4 linked regions of the Homo sapiens genome follow. The protein of the gene in region 1 interacts with the protein of each later gene in a biochemical or structural test. Each region holds a gene or a part of one and is shown in the gene's direction. Other genes may lie near its edges. The genes, in order: MAGED1, VASP, AP2B1 and UNC5A.

Region 1 (5,483 bases):
TGTGGGTTTCCTTTTTTTACCTTCAGGGTGAGACATCCCCTCCTTGGAGATCTAAGGAAACTTCTCACCTATGAGTTTGTAAAGCAGAAGTAAGTGATGCCTAAGGGGCTTTTCCTGCTTCTTATGATTCTGCCTGTGTGCTGGTCAGCTTTAGAAAGCCCTTCCTGGCTGGATACAATGGCTCATGCCTGTAATCCCAGTACTTTGGGAGGCTCAGGTGGGCAGATCGCTTGAGCCCAGGAGTTCAAGACCAGCCTGGGCAACATAACGAAACCCCATCTCTACAAAAAAATACAAAAATTAGCCAGGCGTGGTGACATGCACCTGTAGTCCCAGCTACTTGGGAGGCTGAGGTAGGGGAGAATCATCTGAGCCCAGGAAGTTGAGGCTGCAGTGAGCTGTGATCATGCCACTGCACTCCAACCTGGGCAACAGAGTGAGACCCTGTCTCAAAAAAAATAAAAGAAAGCCCTTCTCAAGCTCGTTTCTTACACTATACTTGTGCATATGTGTTTCTGTGCATACAGAAACACTTATGTCCTCAGGAGTATTTATTGCATATACTCCTCATGGTTAAATTCTTTATTTTTTATTTTTTTATTTTTTGAGACGGAGTTTCGCTCTTGTTGCCCAGGCTGGAGTGCAATGGCGTGATCTCGGCTCACCGCAACCTCTGCCTCCTGGGTTCAAGCTATTCTCCTGCCTCAGCCTCTTGAGTAGCTGGGATTACAGGCATGTGCCACCACGCCCACCTAATTTTGTCTTCTTAGTAGAGACGGTGTTTCTCCATGTTAGGCTGGTCTCAAACTCCCGACTTCAGGTGATCTGCCTGCCTTGGCCTCCAGAAGTGCTGAGATTACAGGCGTGAGCGACCGTACCGGGCGAATTCTTTTGTTTGTTTTTTTCGAGACTGAGTCTCACTCTGTTGCCCATGCTGGAGTGCAGTGGTGCAATCTTGGCTCGCTTGAACTTCCACCTCCCAGGTTCAAGCAATTCTTGTGCCTCAGCCTCCCGAGTAACTGGAACTTCAGGTGCGTGCCACCGTGCCCGGCTGTTTTTGTATTTTTAGTAGAGATGGGGCTTCACCACGTTGGCCAGGCTGGTCTCAAACTCCTGACCTGAAGCAATCCACCCACCTCTGCCTCCCAAAGTGCTGGGATTACAGGTGTGAGCCACCACACCCGGCCAGAATTTTTCTAATTTTTCTACTTTTCTAAGCAGTTGTCTTGCAAGTGAAGCCCATCCACCATCCCCACAGTAGACATTCCCAAGGCTGGGCCAGGCTGACACTTTTGCACTGCATTGTACTCATTTCAATGGACCTCTGTGGCTCACTGACAAGATTACAAGAATCTGGAGCTAGAGCTGAGGCAGAAGGAGTGAAAGGAAATGTTGTCCTTTCTGTGACCCTATACAAGCCTCGCCTGCATCTCTAGTGAGTGCTTAGCGTTCTAGTGCAGGAATTTAAGGCTTGATGATTAAGGGGTAAATACCCTGATGGTGTTCAGGAATGAGCCCAAGGGGGAGTTGCTATCTGAAATCTGTTAAAAAATGTAAGATTATTTTTCATTAGTGGACTACCATTCTGCCTGGGTAGGTAGACACAAAGACTGTTTTGCTCTTTCAGATACCTGGACTACAGACGAGTGCCCAACAGCAACCCCCCGGAGTATGAGTTCCTCTGGGGCCTCCGTTCCTACCATGAGACTAGCAAGATGAAAGTGCTGAGATTCATTGCAGAGGTAATGGAGGAACTGTTCCAGCATTGATAGGTCAAGGGATGAAGTATAGCTGGCTGGGAAAGGCCCAGGGTAGGAATGAGATCCTAGGTGTGGCAGGTGGTAGGTGCCGCATTGCTGGTGGTATTTGTTGTTGCTGTTAGGTAAACTTAACATGTATTAGGTGCTAACATATGTTAATATATTAGCTAATACAATTATGAGTTTGTTTTGGGTTTTTTTTTAGGTTTTTAAAGTATTTTTATTTTTTCCCAACTTTACTAAATTATAATTGACAAAAATTGTATATATTTGTGGTGTACAATGTAATTTTTAAGTATTTTGTTTTATTTATTTATTTATTTGTTTTCTCCCGAGATGGAGTTTTGCTGTGTTGCCCAGGCTAGAGTGCAGTGGCGCAATCTTGGCTCACTGCAACCTCTGCCTCCCAGGTTAAAGCGATTCTTGTGCCTCAGCCTCCCAAGTATCTGGGATTACAGGCACGTGCCACCACCATGCCTGGCTAAATTTTTATTTTTCTATTAGAGACAGGGTTTTGCCATGTTAGCCAGGCTGGTCTCAAACTCCTGACCTCAAGTGATCTGCCTGCCTCAGCCTCCCAAAGTGTTGGGATTACAGGCGTGAGCCACCGTACCCGGCCCATTCATTTATTTTTAACTGACTAATAAAAAATATACATATTTATGGGGTACAGTATGATGTTTTGATAATACATGTACATTGCAGAATGATTACATCAAGCTAGTTAACTCTCCATAGCCTCATATACTTGACATTTTTTTTGTGATGAGAACATTTAAAATGTACTCTTTTAGCAATTTTAAATAAACGACACATTATTATTAACTATAGTCGTCATGCTATACGGTTGATCTCCAGAACATATTCTTCCTATCTAAATGAAACTTTGTACCTTTTAACCGATATCTCCCTATCCCTCCTGACCCCAGGCCCTGGAAACTACCATTCTACTCTCTGCTTCTATGAGTTAGACGTTTTTAGATTCCATGTATAAGTGAGGTCATGCAGTATTTGTCTTTCTGTGTCTGGCTTATTTCACTTAGCATAATGTCATCCAGCATCATCTATGTTGTTGCAAATGGCAGAATTTCCTTCTTTTTAAAGGCTGAATAGTATTCCATTGTGTGTGTGTGTATCACATTGTCCTTATCCATTCATCCACTGATGGACAGGTAGGTTGATTCCATATCTTGGCTATTGTAAATGGATTTTGTTTTGTTTTCTATTCCTCATCTCAGGTTCAGAAAAGAGACCCTCGTGACTGGACTGCACAGTTCATGGAGGCTGCAGATGAGGCCTTGGATGCTCTGGATGCTGCTGCAGCTGAGGCCGAAGCCCGGGCTGAAGCAAGAACCCGCATGGGAATTGGAGATGAGGCTGTGTCTGGGCCCTGGAGCTGGGATGACATTGAGTTTGAGCTGCTGACCTGGGATGAGGAAGGAGATTTTGGAGATCCCTGGTCCAGAATTCCATTTACCTTCTGGGCCAGATACCACCAGAATGCCCGCTCCAGATTCCCTCAGACCTTTGCCGGTCCCATTATTGGTCCTGGTGGTACAGCCAGTGCCAACTTCGCTGCCAACTTTGGTGCCATTGGTTTCTTCTGGGTTGAGTGAGATGTTGGGTAGGTACATCACTTTGGATTGGGCAGTTAGGGTCTCTGGGGGATATAGGGTCCATGGGGTTGTATTTATGTGCATGAGCTAGAAGTATTAGGAAACTCATTGTAGGGAGATGAGGAAAGTATGGGGCAGCACTCTTTGGTATGTATATTCCTTATTATTTGATATATATCATTGATTTTTTTACTTCTTCTTTCTTATGTTCACAGATATTGCTATCAATCGCAGTAGTCTTTCCCCTGTGTGAGGCTGAAGCCTCAGATTCCTTCTAAACACAGCTATCTAGAGAGCCACATCCTGTTGACTGAAAGTGGCATGCAAGATAAATTTATTTGCTGTTCCTTGTCTACTGCTTTTTTTCCCCTTGTGTGCTGTCAAGTTTTGGTATCAGAAATAAACATTGAAATTGCAAAGTGAATTAGATGTGCTCTCTGCTTCTTTTTTTCCCTATATTTGGGGAGCGAGCAACATGTTTATGTGGGAGAGACAGGACCTCAGCTGTAGTTTGAAGGGTAGATCAGCTTTCAGCAGGTGGAAATGTGGGAAGATCTAGCTACTGGATTGGGATACAAAGGCAGGATCAATGAACACGAGACCCAAGAACTAGTATAGTTTATTCAATAAATATCACTTAAGTGACTCTCATGTGATAGATATGCTGCTAGGTGTCTTGGAGTGACATTGCGAGAAGTCGCATAGTGAGAGAGGGTATTGGTGCTCAGACAGTTGCACTTAAGAACACAGAGGAGGTGGAGCTCCAGGTGATGATAAGGTCCAGAGAGTAGGTAGTTGAAGGGGACAGAAGGTGACTATTCTGGAGATAAGGGGTCCATGGCCTGTGATTCTAGGGTGTTGGTTATACAACCCATGTGGAAAGTGAAAGAACTCCAGGAGGGCAGCAGGAGTAGGAGTAGAGAACACTATGAGTTAGATGCCAGAGTCTCCTCTGTGAGAAGGAAGATATACCCCTAGCCACATTGCTCATAAAGGGATGGGCTCACAGGCACTCCTCCCCATCTCTGGAAATGCTGCCCAGGATCCTGTCCCTCTAGGAGGCCCTCACAATCTTCCCACTTGCACAGGACCGGGGCTGCCTCCTCGAGACAGGATCTTATGGGCAGTGAAGGAGGCCTCACAATGGCCTCTTCTCTCCTGCAGGGAGAAAGAGAAGACTTTGTTACCTCAAGAACAAGAATTACAAAGTAAGACAAAGCTCCATGCACAGGCTTTGACTGTGACTGTGAGCAGGAACTTGGCTTGAGCTGCTGAGTTCTATGCTGGAAGCAAGGCTCTCCCACTGAGGACAAAATTAGGCCTAGGCCATGACTTCCTTGGGTGCTTGGTGGTATCTGGACATGTGGACAAGGGCAGAGACGGGAGCTCCTGGGGCACAAAAAAGAGCAAAGGCAATTTGGCCTCCTGGGAAGGGTTTGGTAGTGGGTAGGGATGGTGTCCACAGCTTCCTTAGGTTCCTGAGTGATGTCCACATTCTGAGGAGAGAGCCCAGGATTAATAGGAAGGAGACAGCAGTGCAGGGCCCCAACGCCTCCCCTGCCTGTTGTCCTCATTGCCAGGCTCCCCTCTTTCAGCCAGGCCTGGATCCTGACCCTCAGGTAGGCCTGGAGGAAATCTCAGCCTGAGGCCTTTTTGGCAGGGATTGCACCAGCCCTGCATCTCCATGATGCCTCAGGTCTGGGCTGTAGTTCCTGCATTTCTGGGTGCTGTTTTTTCCACCTTTTGGTGCAAAACACCCAGGCTCGGTGGGGTTGGGGCAGTCTTTCTGTGGAGAAGGTGCTTCCACCATGTGCTGTGTCCACAGCCAGCTTGGGTAATGGAGTCCCCCACCTACCTCAGGCTTCTCCCGGTGTGTGTTCACGGCCTCCACATTCAGGTGGACGGACTCCACCTTGCAGCCTTGGAAAAGAACAATCCATCTTTCCATAAGTCCCCAAGGTAGGCACAGGTCTTCCATGGGGTATCACCTCCCTCCCATCACCACCCACACTCCCAGCTTCATACTGTGTACAGATCATGACTTGCCTGGGGAATTTAGACAGCTGTGTGATGTGTGGGGAAGACACCAGGCCTAAGAGGCAGCCAA
Region 2 (5,867 bases), on another chromosome or scaffold:
AAAAAAAAAAAAAAAAAAAAAGATTAGTCGGGTGTGGTGGTGCATGCTTGTAGTCCCAGCTACTTGGGAGGCTGAAGTGGGAGGATCGCTTGAGCTCAGGAGGTCGAGGCCACATTCCAACCTGGGTGACAGAGAGCAAGACTCTGTCTCAAAAACAAAAATAAAAATAATAATAATAATTATTATTATTAGAGATGGGGTCTCACTATGTTGCCCAGGCTGCTCTGAAATGCTTGGGCTCAAGTGATCCTCCTGCCTCAACCTCCAAAGTGCTGGGATTACAGGTGTGAGACACCACGCCAAGACCATCTTTATCTCTTTCTGTGTCTGCCTCTTCCTCCAGGTCCCCTGTCTGCCCATCCTTTTTCCCCACCCCTCCCCCATCTGTTCATCTGTCTGTCTGCCTTCAGTCTGTCTCTCCTCTTTGTCAACCCGACTCTCCCTTTCCCACCTCTCTCTGCGTCTGTCTCTTGCATCTCGTTTGTGTGTTTGCCTGTCTCTCCTGATCTGATTTTCTCTCCTGATCTGTCTCCCCCGTCTCCTTCTGTCCACGTGGCTCCTGCCTCCCTCTGTGTCACTCTCTTCCTTCCACACACTGTCTTTGTCCCTTGGAATCTCCCAGGAGAGACCCAGATAAGAAGGTGACCGGCCCCTCTCCCTTTTCCTCCCGCCTGCAGCGAGACGGTCATCTGTTCCAGCCGGGCCACTGTGATGCTTTATGATGATGGCAACAAGCGATGGCTCCCTGCTGGCACGGGTCCCCAGGCCTTCAGCCGCGTCCAGATCTACCACAACCCCACGGCCAATTCCTTTCGCGTCGTGGGCCGGAAGATGCAGCCCGACCAGCAGGTGCAGCTTCCCGCCGGCCCCCTCTGTGGGCTGAACCCCTACCCGCCCCACCCCTGCGCCCGCCGCCCCTCACCCCCCTTTCCCCTCCCACCAGGTGGTCATCAACTGTGCCATCGTCCGGGGTGTCAAGTATAACCAGGCCACCCCCAACTTCCATCAGTGGCGCGACGCTCGCCAGGTCTGGGGCCTCAACTTCGGCAGCAAGGAGGATGCGGCCCAGTTTGCCGCCGGCATGGCCAGTGCCCTAGAGGCGTTGGAAGGTCAGAAATGGCGGCGGGCAAAGGGGACCAGTGAATGCGGCTGTGTGGCCTGGGGCTGCCGCTTTACCCTGCTGGGACTTGGTTTACTCGTCGGTAAAATAGAGCGAATTCATTGTTATCATGGAAAATTATCACTAGCATTTTGTGCATTCCAGTGTGACCGTGTGCACCTATGTGTAAAATGCACCATTGGCCCGGCGCCGTGGCTCATGCCTGTAATCTCAGCACTTTGGGAGGCCGAGGCACACGGATTACCTGAGGTCAGGAGTTTCACCGTGCCCAACATGGTGAAATTGCGTCTCTATTAAAATTCAAAAATTAGCTGGGCGTGGTGGTGCGCGCCTGTAATCCCAGCTATTCGGGATGCTGAGGGACGAGAAGTGTTTGAACCCAGGAGATAGAGGTTGCAGTGAGCCGAGATCAGGCCACTGCACTTCAGCCTGGCGACAGAGCAAGATTCCGTCTCAGAAAGAAAACAAACACAAAAAAAATGCACGATTACTCAGGGATCAGTACTCCATGAACTTTACACAGGCACACTCCCGGGAAACCACCTCCCAGATCAAGACATAGGTAGGTCCTGCCCCAGAAACAGGATCTCGCTCTGTTGCCCAGGCTGGTGTGCACTGGCACAATCATGGCTCTCTGCAGCCTTCACCTCCTGGGCTCAAGTGATCCTCTTGCCTCAGCCTCCTAAGTAGCTGGGAATACAGGTGTGCACCACCATACTTGGCTCTTTTTTTGTTTTGTTTTTTGAGACAGAGTCTTGCTCTGTCACCCAGGCTGGAGTGCAGTGGTGCAACCTCAGCTCACTGCAACCTCCACCTCCCGGGTTCGCGTGATTCTCGTGCCTCAGCCTCCTGAGTAGCTGGGATTACAGGCATGTGCCACCATGCCCAAGCTATTTTTTTGTATTTTGTTTTTATTTTTATTTTTTTGAGACAGAGTCTCACTCTGTTGCCCAGGCTGGAGTGCAGTGGCACGATATTGCCTCACTGCAACCTCCGCCTCCCGGGTTCAAGCGATTCTCCTGCCCTAGCCTCCCGAGTAGCTGGGACTATAGGCGTGAGCCACCACACCCGGGTAATTTTTTGTATCTTTAGTAGAGACAAGGTTTCACCGTGTTAGCCAGGATGGTCTCTATCTCCTGACCTTGTGATCCGCCCGCCTAGGCCTCCCAGAGTGCTGGGATTACAGGCATGAGACACCATGCCCGGCCCTTGTATTTTAGTAGAGAAGGGGTTTCACCATATTGGCCAGGCTGGTTTCAAACTCCTGGCCTCAAGTGATCCACCTGCCTCTGCCTCCCAAAGTGCTGGGATTATAAGTGTGAGCCACCATGTCTGGCCACCTGGATCATTTCAAATTTTTTTTTTTTTTTTACTTTTTGTGGAGATGGTCTACAGGCTGGTCTTGAACTCCTGGGCTCAAGTGATCCTCCCACTTCAGCCTCCTAAAGTGCTGGGATTACAGGCATGAGCCACTACACCCAGCCCAGTTGCTTTTTTTTTTTTTTTTTGGAGACGGAGTCTCGCTCTGTCCCCAGGTTGGAGTGCAGTGGCGCGATCTCCGCTCGCTGCAAGCTCTGCCTCCCGGGTAAATGCCATTCTCCTGCCTCAGCCTCCCGAGTAGCTGGGACTACAGGCACCCGCCACCACATCCAGCTAATTTTTTGTATTTTTAGTAGAGACGGGATTTCACCGTGTTAGCCAGGATGGTCTCGATCTCCTGACCTCGTGATCCGCCCGCCTCGGCCTCCGAAAGTGCTGGGATTACAGGCGTGAGCCACTGCGCCCGGCCTTTTTTTTTTTTTTTTTTTTTTTTTTTTAATATGGAGTCTCACTCTGTCTCTCAGGCTGGAGTGCAGTGGTGTGATCTCAGTTCACTGCAACCTCCGCCTCCTGAGTTTAAGCAATTCTGCCTCAGCCTCCTGAGTAGATGGAACTATAGGTGTGCACCAACATGCCTGTCTAATTTTTGTAGTTTTAGTAGAGACGGGGTTTCGCAGTGTTGGCCAGGCTGGTCTCGAACTCCTGACCTCAGGTGATCCACTCGCCTCGGCCTCCCAGAGTGCTGAGATTACAGGCGCGAGTCACGCGCCCAGCCCAGTTGCTATTTCTTAAACCTTAACGTGCACATGAATCACCTGGGGATCTGGTTAAAGTGCAGGCTCTGGTGCAGGTGGGCTGGGCGGACTGAGACTCCACATTCTCACAAGTGCCCTGGTGATACCCAGGCTGCTGGTCTGCGGACGTGACTGAGTAGTGAGGTTTTAGGTGACTGCCGTGCATCTGGCCTGGAATCACTGCTGTAGAACTGAAAGTCACCAAATGCAGGGGTGTTTGCTTCGTGGGACAACTTCTGTGCTAGTGCGGAAGGGGCTTGCTCCTCTGGGGCACACAGAAAAATACAGTGGGCTTCAGTTGAGTCATCTGTAAATTGGGGCTAATTCATTGTTAATTCGTAGCCAATTCAATTCAGGTGCTAGGGCCAGAGGCCTGGAGGTAGGTGAGGAAGAAGCTCTTTACCTTTCCAGGTTCTTAGGTAAGGTCCAAGTGGCTGTAACAGTGGTTAAGAGCTAGCCAGGGGCCAGGTGCGGTGGCTCACGCCTGTAATCTCAGCACTTTGGGAGGCTGAGGCAAGTGGATCACTTGAGGTCAGGAGTTCGAGACCAGCCTAGCCAACATGGTGAAATCCCATCTCTATTAAAAATACAAAAATTAGCCAGGCATGGTGGCAGGCGCCTGTAATCCCAGCTACTCAGGAGGCTGAGGCAGGAGAATCTCTTGAACCCGGGAGGTGGAGGCTGTGGTGAGCCGTGATTGCACTGCTGCACTCCAGCCTGGGTGACAGAGTGAGACTCTGTCTCGAAACAAACCAACAGTGGTTAAGAGCCTGGCTGCTGGAATCAGCCTGAATTCAAGTCTTGTTCCTGCACATTCCACCCTGGAGAAATCTGGGGCAAGTGACTGTTCCCCGGGCCTTAGCTTCTCCTGTCACTGGGACATCACAACAGCACCTACCTTAGGGCAACTCAGGCCAGGGAAGTTGGTGCTGCCTCACCTCCCAATGTGCGTCCTCCTGGGCCTGGAGCCTCAGGGCCTCTGGAAGGAGGAAGTGAGCGCCTCTGGGCAGGATTCCTGGGAGGCCTGGGAGAGCAAGGGAAGCGCCAAGAGCTGAGCAGAGTTCTGGGACTGATCCATGGCCCTTTCTCTCTCACCTTTCAGGAGGTGGGCCCCCTCCACCCCCAGCACTTCCCACCTGGTCGGTCCCGAACGGCCCCTCCCCGGAGGAGGTGGAGCAGCAGAAAAGGTGGGGCTGGGCCCTGGGTGGGGAACCTTAGCCGCTGCCAGAGTTCCATATGTTCTGGAACCCTTGACTCCTAGAGTTCAGAACCCAGCCAACTTGCAGTTTTCAGAATGTTCAAGAAACTTCTGACACTCAGAGTTGCAGAACCTCCTGGTCCCTGCAGATTCCTGGAAATCAGAATATGGTGGTTGAAAGAATCTTGTGGCTGGGCGTGGTGGCTCACGCCTGTAATCCCAGCACTCTGGGAGGCCGAGGCGGGCAGATCGCCTGAGGTCAGGAGTTTGAGACCAGCCTGGCCAACATGGCGAAATCCCGTCTCTACTGAAGATAACAAAAATTAGCCGGTCATGGTGGCGCCCGTGCCTGTAATCCCAGCTCGGCAGGCCGAGGCAGGAGAATCGCTTGAACCCGGGAGGCAGAGGTTGCAGTGAGCCAAGATCGAGCCACTGCACTCCAGCCTGGGTGACAGAGTCTCAAAAAAAAAAAAAGAAAAGAAAGAATCTTGGGCATTTTGTAATTCGGTGTTCCTGACAGTTTAGTGACTGGGATCTCGCATCCTGATCTCTCCCTGTCGCTGCCCTGCCCTCCATTCCCCCTACTCTCACCCAGCCCCCTTCTTGGTTCCCTAGGGGAGGAAGGCTTGGGTGAGTATTAGGAGCCAGCCACCCTGGAGACCTCTGAGAGAGAGGACGGAGGTCGCTGGCCCCTTCGCTGGCCATCCTTAGGGCCCTGATTGACGGCAGCTCTCTCGCCTCCCCCCACAGGCAGCAGCCCGGCCCGTCGGAGCACATAGAGCGCCGGGTCTCCAATGCAGGTGATGCTCAGATAGCTTCGGGAGTTGGGAGGGGGCCTCCCTGGAGGAAGTGGCCAGCCAGCTGGACAGTGAAGAATGAGGCTTCTCTCTCTCAGCTGCCCCCTTTTCTGTGTTTGTTTCAGGAGGCCCACCTGCTCCCCCCGCTGGGGGTCCACCCCCACCACCAGGACCTCCCCCTCCTCCAGGTCCCCCCCCACCCCCAGGTTTGCCCCCTTCGGGGGTCCCAGCTGCAGCGCACGGAGCAGGGGGAGGACCACCCCCTGCACCCCCTCTCCCGGCAGCACAGGGCCCTGGTGGTGGGGGAGCTGGGGCCCCAGGCCTGGCCGCAGCTATTGCTGGAGCCAAACTCAGGAAAGTCAGCAAGGTGAGGGGCCGGGAGAGGTGGGCAGGGGGCAACAGGGCTTTTATGGGGGATGAGGCCAGGGCTGCCGGCGGTGTCATTGGGCTGGAAGGCCAAAAGGCCTGCCCCTAAAGCTCCTGCCCCTTTTAAATTTCTCCAGCAGGAGGAGGCCTCAGGGGGGCCCACAGCCCCCAAAGCTGAGAGTGGTCGAAGCGGAGGTGGGGGACTCATGGAAGAGATGAACGCCATGCTGGCCCGGAGGTGAGCCTGAGCCTGGACCCCCAAGTCACCTGGA
Region 3 (5,867 bases), on another chromosome or scaffold:
CCCAGAGAGCCATTTGAATTAAGACCCTATTAATTTTTTTCTGACCTTATTCTACCCAAGGTATTAATCTTATTTTGCTGCTCAGTTTCTCTTTTGGGGAACTGGAGGGAGATATAGGAGAGGAGGGACTTTGACAACCTATATTTGGTAGAAACTAGGTTATGTTAAATCTGGATATATAGTCCTGTGCAGGGAGGCCTTCTCCGAAATGCAGTGACATCACACTCTGGTCGAGGGCAAGTAAGAGTGATTATGTGCTTTGACTCTGGCAGCTTTGTTGTTTAACAGTGGCCTTAGGCCATACCGTAAATCCTCAGAACAGCCGTTACTTGTCTGGTTTGATCTGGTAGAAAGGTAGTGTGAGTTCAAATTCCATCATGGCTTTGCTTATTTCTCTGGCTCTTCTGAAGGAACATTTTCTCCCCCCATAGGAGCAGCTTGATTTTTGAGGCACTTCAGCAAATATTAGATTTTTTTTTTCTTTAGCTCTATTTTGTTTACTTTTTCTGTAACTTCTTTTTTTTTTTTTTTTTTTGAGACGGAGTCTCACTCTTTCGCCCAGGCTGGAGTGCAGTGGCGCGATCTCGGCTCACTGCAAGCTCTGCCTCCTGGGTTCACACCATTCTCCTGTCTCAGCTTCCCGAGTAGCTGGGACTACAGGCGCCCGCCACACGCCTGGCTAATTTTTTGTATTTTTAGTAGAGACAGGGTTTCACCGTGTTAGCCAGGATGGTCTCGATCTCCTGACCTTGTGATCCGCCCGCCTCCCAAAGTGCTGGGATTACAGGCGTGAGCCACCGCGACCGGCTGTAACTTCTAATGAAGACGTCAGTTTTTGCCATCCTGTATTTTGGAGACTCTGGCTATGTCCATATCTAGCATGTGATTAAGTGTATCTCTCATTATATGAGGTGAGAACTCATTATATGAGAGATACACTGAATCATATATATATGTGATTTTTTTTTGAGGTGAAATTCACGTACCATAAAATTAACCAGGTTAAGGCATACAGTTCAGTGGCATTTAGTACACTGACAGTGTTGTGCAACAATCATGTCTTCTGATTTGTTTTTATTTACACTATTTTCATTTTTCTTGGAGTTTCTTTTGGCTTAAGGCAAGAACCAGCTTGGCACCATGTTTCTCTGCCAATATGGTTAGGGAATATTTTGTTACTATTGTTTACAATATGGTTACTAGAGTGATATCCCTTCTCTTTAGAGCAGCAGGGACTCTTAATTTAGAATCTATCTTATAGGCTTCTAAAGATACTTGACCCTCCTCTCTTCCCTGAAATTTTGTGGGTGGGTGCATTATTTTCTAGTTAAGACAAGAACACTTAATGCTCACAGTGAACAGGATAGTAATATATTCCTTGACATTGAAATTGTTAGGGGAGATAATGAAATATGTGAGCTACTGATAAAGGTATGACTTAAGACTTAGGTTAATTTATTGTTTAATAGAATGTAGTGAAAATGCCTGTTAAGAATTTACTCATGCCTGTAATCCCAGCACTTTGGGAGGCCGAGGTGGATGGATAACTTGATGTCAGGAGTTCCAGACCAGCCTGGCTAACAAGGAAAAACCCTGTCTCTACTAAAATACAAAAATTAGCTGGGCGTGGTAGTGGGTGCCTGTAGTCCCAGCTACTCTGAAGGCTAAGGCAGGAGAATCACTTGAACCTGGGAGGCAAAGGTTGGAGTGAGCCCAAATTGAACCACTGCACTGGAGCCTGGGCCACAGTGAGATTTTGTCTCAAAAAAAAAAAAAAAAAAAAAAGAATTTAATGGGCTGGGCACGGTGATCCCAACATGTAGTCCCAGCTACTCGGGAGGCTGAGGCAGGAGGATTGCTTGAGCCCAGAAGGCAGATGTTGCAGTGAGTCCCAGCTGGGACTACAGGCATGTGCTACCATGCCCGGCTAATTTTTGTATTTTTATTAGAGACGGAGTTTCGCCACGTTCCCCAGACTGGTCTCGATCTCCTGAGCTCAAGCCATCCGCACGCCTCGTCCTCCCAAAGTGTTGGGATTACAGGCGTGAGCCACCGTGCCTGGCCAAAAAAAATTTAATATGTGTATGTATAAGAGGCTTTTCAGAGAAATTGGGTGACAAATTCTAAGGAGGTTTTGTTTTAAAATCTTAAACAAGTTTTAAAGGACATAGCATAGCATAGTAAATATCCTAGACAGATTGTAATGGATTTGAGCTATAGTCCTTCTTTGAGGCTCAAGTAATCGTTTCTGTTTACTGGTTTTTCTGTTTGTATATATACATTCATAAATAACTTCAGATTTATTCCAGGTCTTTTATGTGAAGAATTCCTTTCTTCATTTGCCCACTTCACATTTAGTTTACATTATGAATGGACTAAATGATTATAACATTCTTTGAATTTTTGCTAGAAACACATTGTAAAAACATTGCATAAGGCAAGCTTCAGTATAATTTTTAATTATAACAAGTATTAAAGGAGAAATTTCTATATTCTGTAATGATATTTGTGAGTCCTAGCTCACTTCTTTTAACAAGATCATTCTGTGAATTTCTGGTACAATCTAAAGAGCTATTAGGATCAAGACTATAAATAGTAATTAGCTGGTTGGAAAGATAGCAAATGAGTCTAATTTCCATTAAACTGTACAAGTAGCACGTTTTAGAGATCAGATTTGAACCAGAAGTTTTTCATTATTTTATGTTTATCTGGCTCTTTTTTCTTTTCTTTAATTACATTGATTTGTTTGGTGCTTAGGTCTTTTCTCCTAGATCCATATTTACTATTGTTTGCCAAATACATTATGTCATATTGACCTGATAATAATGAGCAGGTGCCAGCATGTCTTGTCCTGAAGTTGGTGATAAGTATTATTAGTGATGGTGATAAGGAAAAAGATACTCATTTTGAGTACAGAAGGAATATTATTAAAAAATATATGTATATTTATATATTTTTTTCCCCTTGAGACAAGGTCTCTGTCGCTGAGGCTGGAGTGCAGTGGTGAGATCATAGCTCCCTGTAGCCTTGATCTCCTAAGCTCAAGCGATCCACACACCTCAGCCTCCCAAGTAGCTGAGACTACAGGTACATGCCACCATGCCTGAGCCACCGCGCCTGGCCCAAATTCCTATTTATTTATTTATTTATTTGAGATGGACTTTTGCTCTGTTGCCCAGGCTGGAGTGCAGTGGCGTGATCTCGGCTTACTGCAGCTTCCGCCTCCCAGGTCCAAGCGATTCTCCTGCCTCAGCCTCCCAAGTAGCTGGGATTAAAGGCACGTGCCACCATGCCCAGCTAAATTTTGTATTTTTAGCAGAGACAGGATTTCACCATGTTGGCGAGGCTGGTCTTGAACTCCTGACCTCAAGTGATCCACCCGGCAGCCTCACAAAGTGCTGGGATTACAGGCGTGAGCTACTGTGCCTGGCCCCAAAATTTTAATATATTTAAAGAAGTCTGGTACATTGGACAAAGTCTTATAGTTTCTCAAATCAGAAAAAGTAGTCTTATTATTTAGTAAAAATGTGACCAGACTGTGCCGTTTTTGTTAGTAGAGCCATTTGTCATCTGGATTACTTCTTCTGGAAATTGGGATGGAAGAGTTAAGGTTGAGGTTGAGATCCACGTTCTTTTGTTTCAACACCAGTTTGATTCTCGTGTCTGAACGGATGTCTCAGTCTTTTGCCTTGTTTTTAACTATAAACTGGCATTATTTGGGAATACTCTTGGGCTAAATCTGGATTGTTGGAAGTAAGAAAGCCACATTTTTTTTTAAATCCAAAAATATAGTTAGATACAATGAATAAGATCTAGTATTTGATAGCACAAAAGGGTGACTGCGGTCAACAATAATTTACTGTACATTTAAAAATAACTAAAAGAATGTAATTGAATTGTTTATAATACAAAGAAAGGATAAATGCTTGAGGTGATGGATATCCCATTTACACTAATGTAATTATTATGCATTGTCTGCCTGTTATCAAAATATCTCATGTACCTATACGCACCTACTAAATACCCACAAAACTAAAAATTAAAAAAATTCCATGCATAAGTCATGGTTGCCTCTCTAGATGTTTGTTGTGAAAGAATATTGTCCTACTAATTTTGAATTTTTTTTTTCTGAAAGAGATTCTTTTTATTGAAAGTTTCATGTCATAGATCGGCAAAATTGTTTTTTCTTTTGACCTTACACTGCTTCAGAATATATGTTTTGGAGTGATTCCAGCTTGAGGCAAGGAAGTTACCAGATTTTCCTGAATGGAAAGTAATTGCAGATATATTTATAAAAAGGTCCAGCTTTAGCTCTTGAAAGCTTTGAGGAGTTACTGTGGATAAAATCACAAAGCCATAATAGGTTCATACTTTTACCCAGTTGCATTTGGCCTTTAGATTTTTGCCCCATTAGCTTGAGGAGTTACATTCTTAGTTTTTCTTGAACCATCAACGGTGGTGATAAAGGAAGATGATACTCATTTTTAGAAATTCTTAAATATAAGTGTTCCTAAAATTAATTGGATGTTCTTAAAATTAATTGGATGCCTTGTTGGATATCTATAACCTGAATGAAGGAATTCTTTTCTCTTGCTATAGGTGCACATTAAAGATCCAAAGTCATGACTGACTCCAAGTATTTCACAACCAATAAAAAAGGTAAGTATGAGAATACAATCAAATCTTTTGAAATTTTCAAAAGTTGTAGTGTAAGATTGCCCCAGGCAGAATGCTGCTGACCTCTTCCTTCAGACATACATGTAGCTGACAATCTCACTGGACATCTACTACTTCTATAGATGAATGTATTCAAGCAAGTTATTAAAGAGTAGGTTTTAAAAGAGAGGGCTGTGATGCACATTATTATGACTTGAAGGTTCTGTTTAGTGAAAGAGACTCCTCTTTGCTGTTTGAGATGATCCATTGGAGATTGGTTAAGTGTGAGGAGGACAAAAGAAGCAGCATACTTTTTCCCTTTTATTAAATAATTTTTACTTGGAAATAAACATTTTATAACAAAGAATACAATTAAAGCAATACAGATATGTATGTAAAAGGTAAAAATGAAAGTTCTCCCTTCCTGTTCCTATTCCCAAGGGAACTTGGTGTATATCCTCAAGTCTTTTTCTCTGCATATGAGTGCATATATTAATACATATGATTTAAAATTTTTTTATCTTTAATGAAAAAGCAATCTTGCAAAACAATGAATAGAAATGAGTTATTTTCATATCCGTCCATATACATCTACCATGTTCTTCGTCTAGATGTATATTTAAAACGGAATCTCTAGAGCCATCTATGGTTTTTAGGTCATAGACGGAATTACTTGAGGGACTTTGCACTTATTACTCTCATCATCTTTGTTATCAGTAATATAATGCTTGTTTTTACCTATGAGTTTGGGTCTAGGAACAAAGGATTCTTCTGGGGAAAGTCCAACCCTTCATCTTTTGTAAAATTGTTCCTAAATAAAATAGATCATTTCTAGAAATGTGGAGGGTCTTCCCATCAAAGACAAACATTTTAGCCCATCTCAGCTTATTGTGCCTGTAGCTTAGCTTGCTTTATTTGTTGCTTAGGATCAGAATTCTGTGCTTTTGTGTTCAGGAGTCCTTACATTTACCAAAGTATTCCAGACATGGCGCCAACTACCATTCTTCTTTTTCTCTTGTTGCAGTGAGTTGCTTAATTATGTCAGTTTGTTGTCTGTAGCTTTCAGTCTTGGCAACACATCAGAATTGCTCAGCCAGGGAACTTTGAAATAATACTGATGCCTGGGTCTCAACCTCAGCCTGATTTCAGTTGTCCTGGATATGGTCTGGGTGTGAGGATTTTAAAGGTTCTCCAGGTGGCCAGGCATGGTG
Region 4 (4,125 bases), on another chromosome or scaffold:
TTTTTATAGTAGACTTAAGAGGAAAGCAAAACATTTTTCATAACCCTTCTCTATCAAAAGTGGGAAACAAAAGACAGACCGAGAGAGGGCCTCGTGTCTCAAGAAATATAGGAGAGCTCATATCTCTTTGTGGAAGCAAGACCATCCCTTACATCGCCTAGCCTGCAGCGCCAATTTATATTATCGACCGGCCCCGTAGGCGTTTGAGTTTGCGACCCTGCCCTCACCCTGCTCATTCCCCTCCCGACCCAGACTAGGACCCTCTCTTTTTCCGATCACTCCCCCCAGGCACACCGCACGCGGCTGTCATTTCCTTTCTCCTTCAAGGCAGCCCTCTGTTTATTTTAACCCGATTAGGGAATGGGGGTGGGGCACAGGAGACTCCAGCAGCGGTCACTGCTGGAGGCTCCAGGAGACGACGTGACTTGACCAAGGTCACAGAGCTGGAAGGTGAAGTCGCCTGGACCCTACCCCCGGTCTCCCTAGCTGCCAAAGCCCAGCTCGTTCCTTTACACCCACGTCGCGGGCGCCGTGCGCTCTCGGGGCTCAAACACCGCGCGCCCAGTCGGGTGTGCTGCGCCTGAAGGTTGTTTTCCTTCGGCGAACGGCGCCGAGGGGTTAGGGAAACCTTGGGTCATGGTGTGAGGCGCGCCCCTGGAATCCACCAGCCTGCGAGGCTGGGACTGCGGGTGTCCCCGAGTCTGGCCTGCCAGCTCTGGTGGCCAGGGCACCTCTGCGCGCGGGCCAGGGCCCCGGGGCTCTCCCGCAGTCCCCTAACCAAGCCGCGGGCTGGCAGCGTACCGCGGCGCCCGGACGACCCCGGAGCGCGGCCGCGAGGAAAGGGCGGGGGAGAGGACTGCAGCGGAACCTGCCCGGGGCACCCCTGCCCTGGGCGGCTCTCCGCAGGCTGGCGCCGCGCCGGGGTCGCCGCAGCCCCGGGCCCCTCCCGGGCCACCTGTGCGCAGACTGGCGGGCCCGCGAGAGCCCGGATCCGGAGCACCGATCCACTCCGGGTTTCAGACTCCTGCCCCTGTCCCTGGAGACCCCGCGGGGCGGTGGGAGGCCTCCACGCCCACCACCCCAAGCCCCTCCCTGGGGGAGCCTCAGGCATCGCCCAGAGGGATTCCCGGTGCTGGGGGTGGCCCGCGCGCGCTGCGCGGGGCGGCCCGGCCCCTCCTTCCTTCCCCCGCCCCTCCCAGCCGCCGCCCCGCTCCGTCGCTCCAGTCCGGGTTTTGCGGCGCCCACCGGCCCGCTCTCCGGCTGCGGGCTCCGCGGCGCGGCTGGCTCGGTGCGCGGCGCGGCTGGCGCTGCGCTCCGCCCCGGCTGCATTGCTGCGCTCCCGTGCCCAAGGGAGCCACGCGCCGCGTGCGCCCGGCAGCCGGCCGCCCGGAGGCAGCGCAGTCCGCTGGCATGGGCCCCGGGGGCGCCCCGAGCTGGGGCTCCGGGCTGAGGCGCTAAAGCCGCCCTCCCGCCCGCGGGGCCCCGCGCCCGGCCCGCCCGCCTGCCCGCCCGCGGCCATGGCCGTCCGGCCCGGCCTGTGGCCAGCGCTCCTGGGCATAGTCCTCGCCGCTTGGCTCCGCGGCTCGGGTGAGTCACGCCGCGCGCGCTCTGGGGAGGCTTGCGGGGGACCGTGCGCGCGAACGCTCGCTGCTCTGGGGGTCCCTGACCAGCGCTGCCAGACCCGGCTGGGAGCCCCCCGAGGCCAAACTTTGCGAGGCGGGACGCGGGGGGCTCTTCTTGCTGCTGCGCAGCTTCCCCGCGCGCTCTCCCGGAAGCCTGGGTTCTGCCAAGTCCAGGAGCAGCTGTCAGCCCGCGGGGCTGGCGAGTGTAGACACCCCACGCCTCCGGGTGGGGGAAGTTTGCTGGTTGCCTGGGCCCGGAGCAGGGCTGGGGGTTTGGATCAACCCCAGGGAGCCTGACTTTGAGGATTCGAAGATTAGAGGGTTTTGAGCCTATCCCAGTGCCCAGGAAATGGGGGGTGCGGGGAACGTTTAAGATACCTCTTCCCGGTAGCATCTGCCCTAAACAGCCACTCACAATCTCCCAGCTTGGCACCTGGCCTCTGCCCACGTCCAGAACACAGTGTCCTCCTCTGTCCCCGCCACACACGCTCTCACACGCACACACTCAGGCGTGGAGGCGCATACACCAGCCCCCAGTCCTTGCAGCCAGCACAGTCAAAGCGCCGCGGTCCCGGTGGCCGGGGCTGTGGCTCCTGGCCTCCCTGGTGCGGGGGGCCAGAGTTGTGTGTGGTTGGTCCGCCAGTTTCCCCTTCTTCCTTAAACTCCATAGCCTTTCTTGGCCCCTGCATGCCCCATTGGTCACCCTAACCCACTGCTAACTCAGCCCTCAGCCCACCTCATTCCCTTGGGAGGGGCTTGGGGGGAGGAAGTTCCCCTGCATCCTTTGTCTGCTGTCCCTGAGCCTTCACCTAGGCTGAGCTGTGGGGGCCTCCTGATCTCTGCCCCCCATGCACTTAGCTGAGTTGAGCGTATGTGTCTGTGGTGGTGGGGGGTGGGTGCCATTTGTGTGGTCAAGGGGGCTTGAGGCTTACCCTGGCAATTCTCGATTCTTGCTGCCCCTAGAACCTGGGCGGTTACTCCCCAGCCTGGCCAGGCCGCTGCTTATAACAGGGGTGTTGGAAGGGAGCACTGGGGTTTCTGAGCTGCCAAACCAGATTGATCAGAGATCAATGAGTGGGAGCTCAGGAGCCAGCCTGATGATTGAGGCCGATGGCTGTTTCCTTAAAGGGTGTCTCTGCGCAGCGCATCCTGCACCCACCACTGCCTGACCGCCCGCCCCATCCTGCCTCCTCAGTACCCCTCTCTACTCCATCCCACCCCTTCTATCTCCCTTCTCCATCAGCACCCCTCTTCTTCCCCAGGGCCTCTCCTTCTAATCCTGACCAAGCTGAGAGGCTGAACTGCTGTTGGGTGTGTGTCCGTGTCCGCCACATGTGTGTGTTAGGGGCGTGTGTGCAGCTCCGCAGATGAGCACCCGGGTGCAGGTTGCACTGTTGTCCATGATGAGGTGGGGATATTAGTGCCCCACACACAGGTGGGGTGTTGCCTGACACCCAGTAGGTACCCTGGAAATGTTTTCTGAGTTGATGCTTTTGAGGGCTGTGTGGTCATAGCTGCATGTCGCCCACGTGAGCACGTGTGAAGGCTGTGGGTTGACATGTGTGCCCGGGTAACCAGGGGGGTTGGCATGGTGTGTGCAGCATTGGCATGTGTGTGCCCTGATGAACGTGTGTGATGACCAGCATGCCGCACGTGTGTGACGGCTGTGTGCAGTTGCACAGGTGAGCGTGTACAGATAAGGGGGCACAGGTACCGGTGAAGCAGGGTGCTGCGGCCTGGAGCGGGGGGTTGCCACAGGGACTCCTCAGGAGGCTGTGGGGGTGGGGAAACTGCATCCCTGGTTGGCAGGGCATCTGTTGAGGCCTGGCCCAAGGTTGCCCAGGGAGTCGGCAGGTGGGCACAGGTGCTGCAGGGGCTGACGCAGAGCCTGCCCCAAGGCATCAACTCTGCCCCTGGGCCTGCGGGAGGAGCTGCTGAAGGCCATGGGGTGGGGAGGGGCTGGCCCTACTTCTTTGGGACTCCCTTCCCCCTGTGCCCCACAGGCACTGGGCACATGTGGACGCCCAGGCAGGCTGGCCCTGCCGTGACCCGGGCTCCTCCCGCGCTGCCTTTTGCCTCCGTTGCAACAGCCTCCGGTGAAAAATGTGTCTGTGAGCCGCTGAGGGAGGGATGGCCAGCGGGCAGCAGGGGGCGCCGGGGGCCAGCGCGACTGACTGCAGCCGCTTGCTCCCCAGGCCACGCGCCCACCCTCTGTTGCTGGACATCACACAAAAGCCTGTCCCTTCAGCATGCTCGCACCTGCAGGCCCTCTCTGTGCCCGCGCACGCAAGCACCCATCTGTCTCACAGGATTTTCCCTCTCAAACCCCGTCACGCAGCTGGCATGCAAACCCCCACCCTGCCCCTGTGGTCTCCCTGTCACCCAGACCTCTGCAGTCTTGAGCAGGAGGGACTTGGGAGCTGGCTCCCTTGAAGATGGGGCTGAGGGGTGCCATGCTCTGGCATTGCTGCATTGCCCAACCTGACCCCAACCATCTAGCCTG

What was found.
Region 2: the proteins of MAGED1 (region 1) and VASP interact in a test that uses a peptide from one of them, tested with the Homo sapiens proteins (one large-scale study listed by BioGRID and IntAct).
Region 3: the proteins of MAGED1 (region 1) and AP2B1 interact in a surface display test, tested with the Homo sapiens proteins (one large-scale study listed by IntAct).
Region 4: the proteins of MAGED1 (region 1) and UNC5A form a complex in vitro, tested with the Homo sapiens proteins (one study listed by BioGRID).

What each region holds. Positions count from the first base shown.
Region 1 is NC_000023.11:51,898,555-51,904,037, forward strand, and holds the end of MAGED1 (melanoma-associated antigen D1), read left to right. Parts: intron 1-26; coding exon 27-89; intron 90-1,627; coding exon 1,628-1,742; intron 1,743-2,998; coding exon 2,999-3,376; 3' UTR 3,377-3,384; intron 3,385-3,591; 3' UTR 3,592-3,800; downstream 3,801-5,483. UniProt on the Homo sapiens protein: Involved in the apoptotic response after nerve growth factor (NGF) binding in neuronal cells. Inhibits cell cycle progression, and facilitates NGFR-mediated apoptosis. May act as a regulator of the function of DLX family members.
Region 2 is NC_000019.10:45,516,986-45,522,852, forward strand, and holds part of VASP (vasodilator-stimulated phosphoprotein), read left to right. Parts: intron 1-677; coding exon 678-849; intron 850-943; coding exon 944-1,109; intron 1,110-3,964; exon of another isoform or gene 3,965-4,258; intron 4,259-4,336; coding exon 4,337-4,421; intron 4,422-5,182; coding exon 5,183-5,232; intron 5,233-5,354; coding exon 5,355-5,596; intron 5,597-5,732; coding exon 5,733-5,833; intron 5,834-5,867. UniProt on the Homo sapiens protein: Ena/VASP proteins are actin-associated proteins involved in a range of processes dependent on cytoskeleton remodeling and cell polarity such as axon guidance, lamellipodial and filopodial dynamics, platelet activation and cell migration.
Region 3 is NC_000017.11:35,589,409-35,595,275, forward strand, and holds part of AP2B1 (AP-2 complex subunit beta), read left to right. Parts: intron 1-4,599; 5' UTR 4,600-4,622; coding exon 4,623-4,659; intron 4,660-5,867. UniProt on the Homo sapiens protein: Component of the adaptor protein complex 2 (AP-2). Adaptor protein complexes function in protein transport via transport vesicles in different membrane traffic pathways.
Region 4 is NC_000005.10:176,809,234-176,813,358, forward strand, and holds the start of UNC5A (netrin receptor UNC5A precursor), read left to right. Parts: upstream 1-1,325; 5' UTR 1,326-1,517; coding exon 1,518-1,587; intron 1,588-4,125. UniProt on the Homo sapiens protein: Receptor for netrin required for axon guidance. Functions in the netrin signaling pathway and promotes neurite outgrowth in response to NTN1. Mediates axon repulsion of neuronal growth cones in the developing nervous system in response to netrin.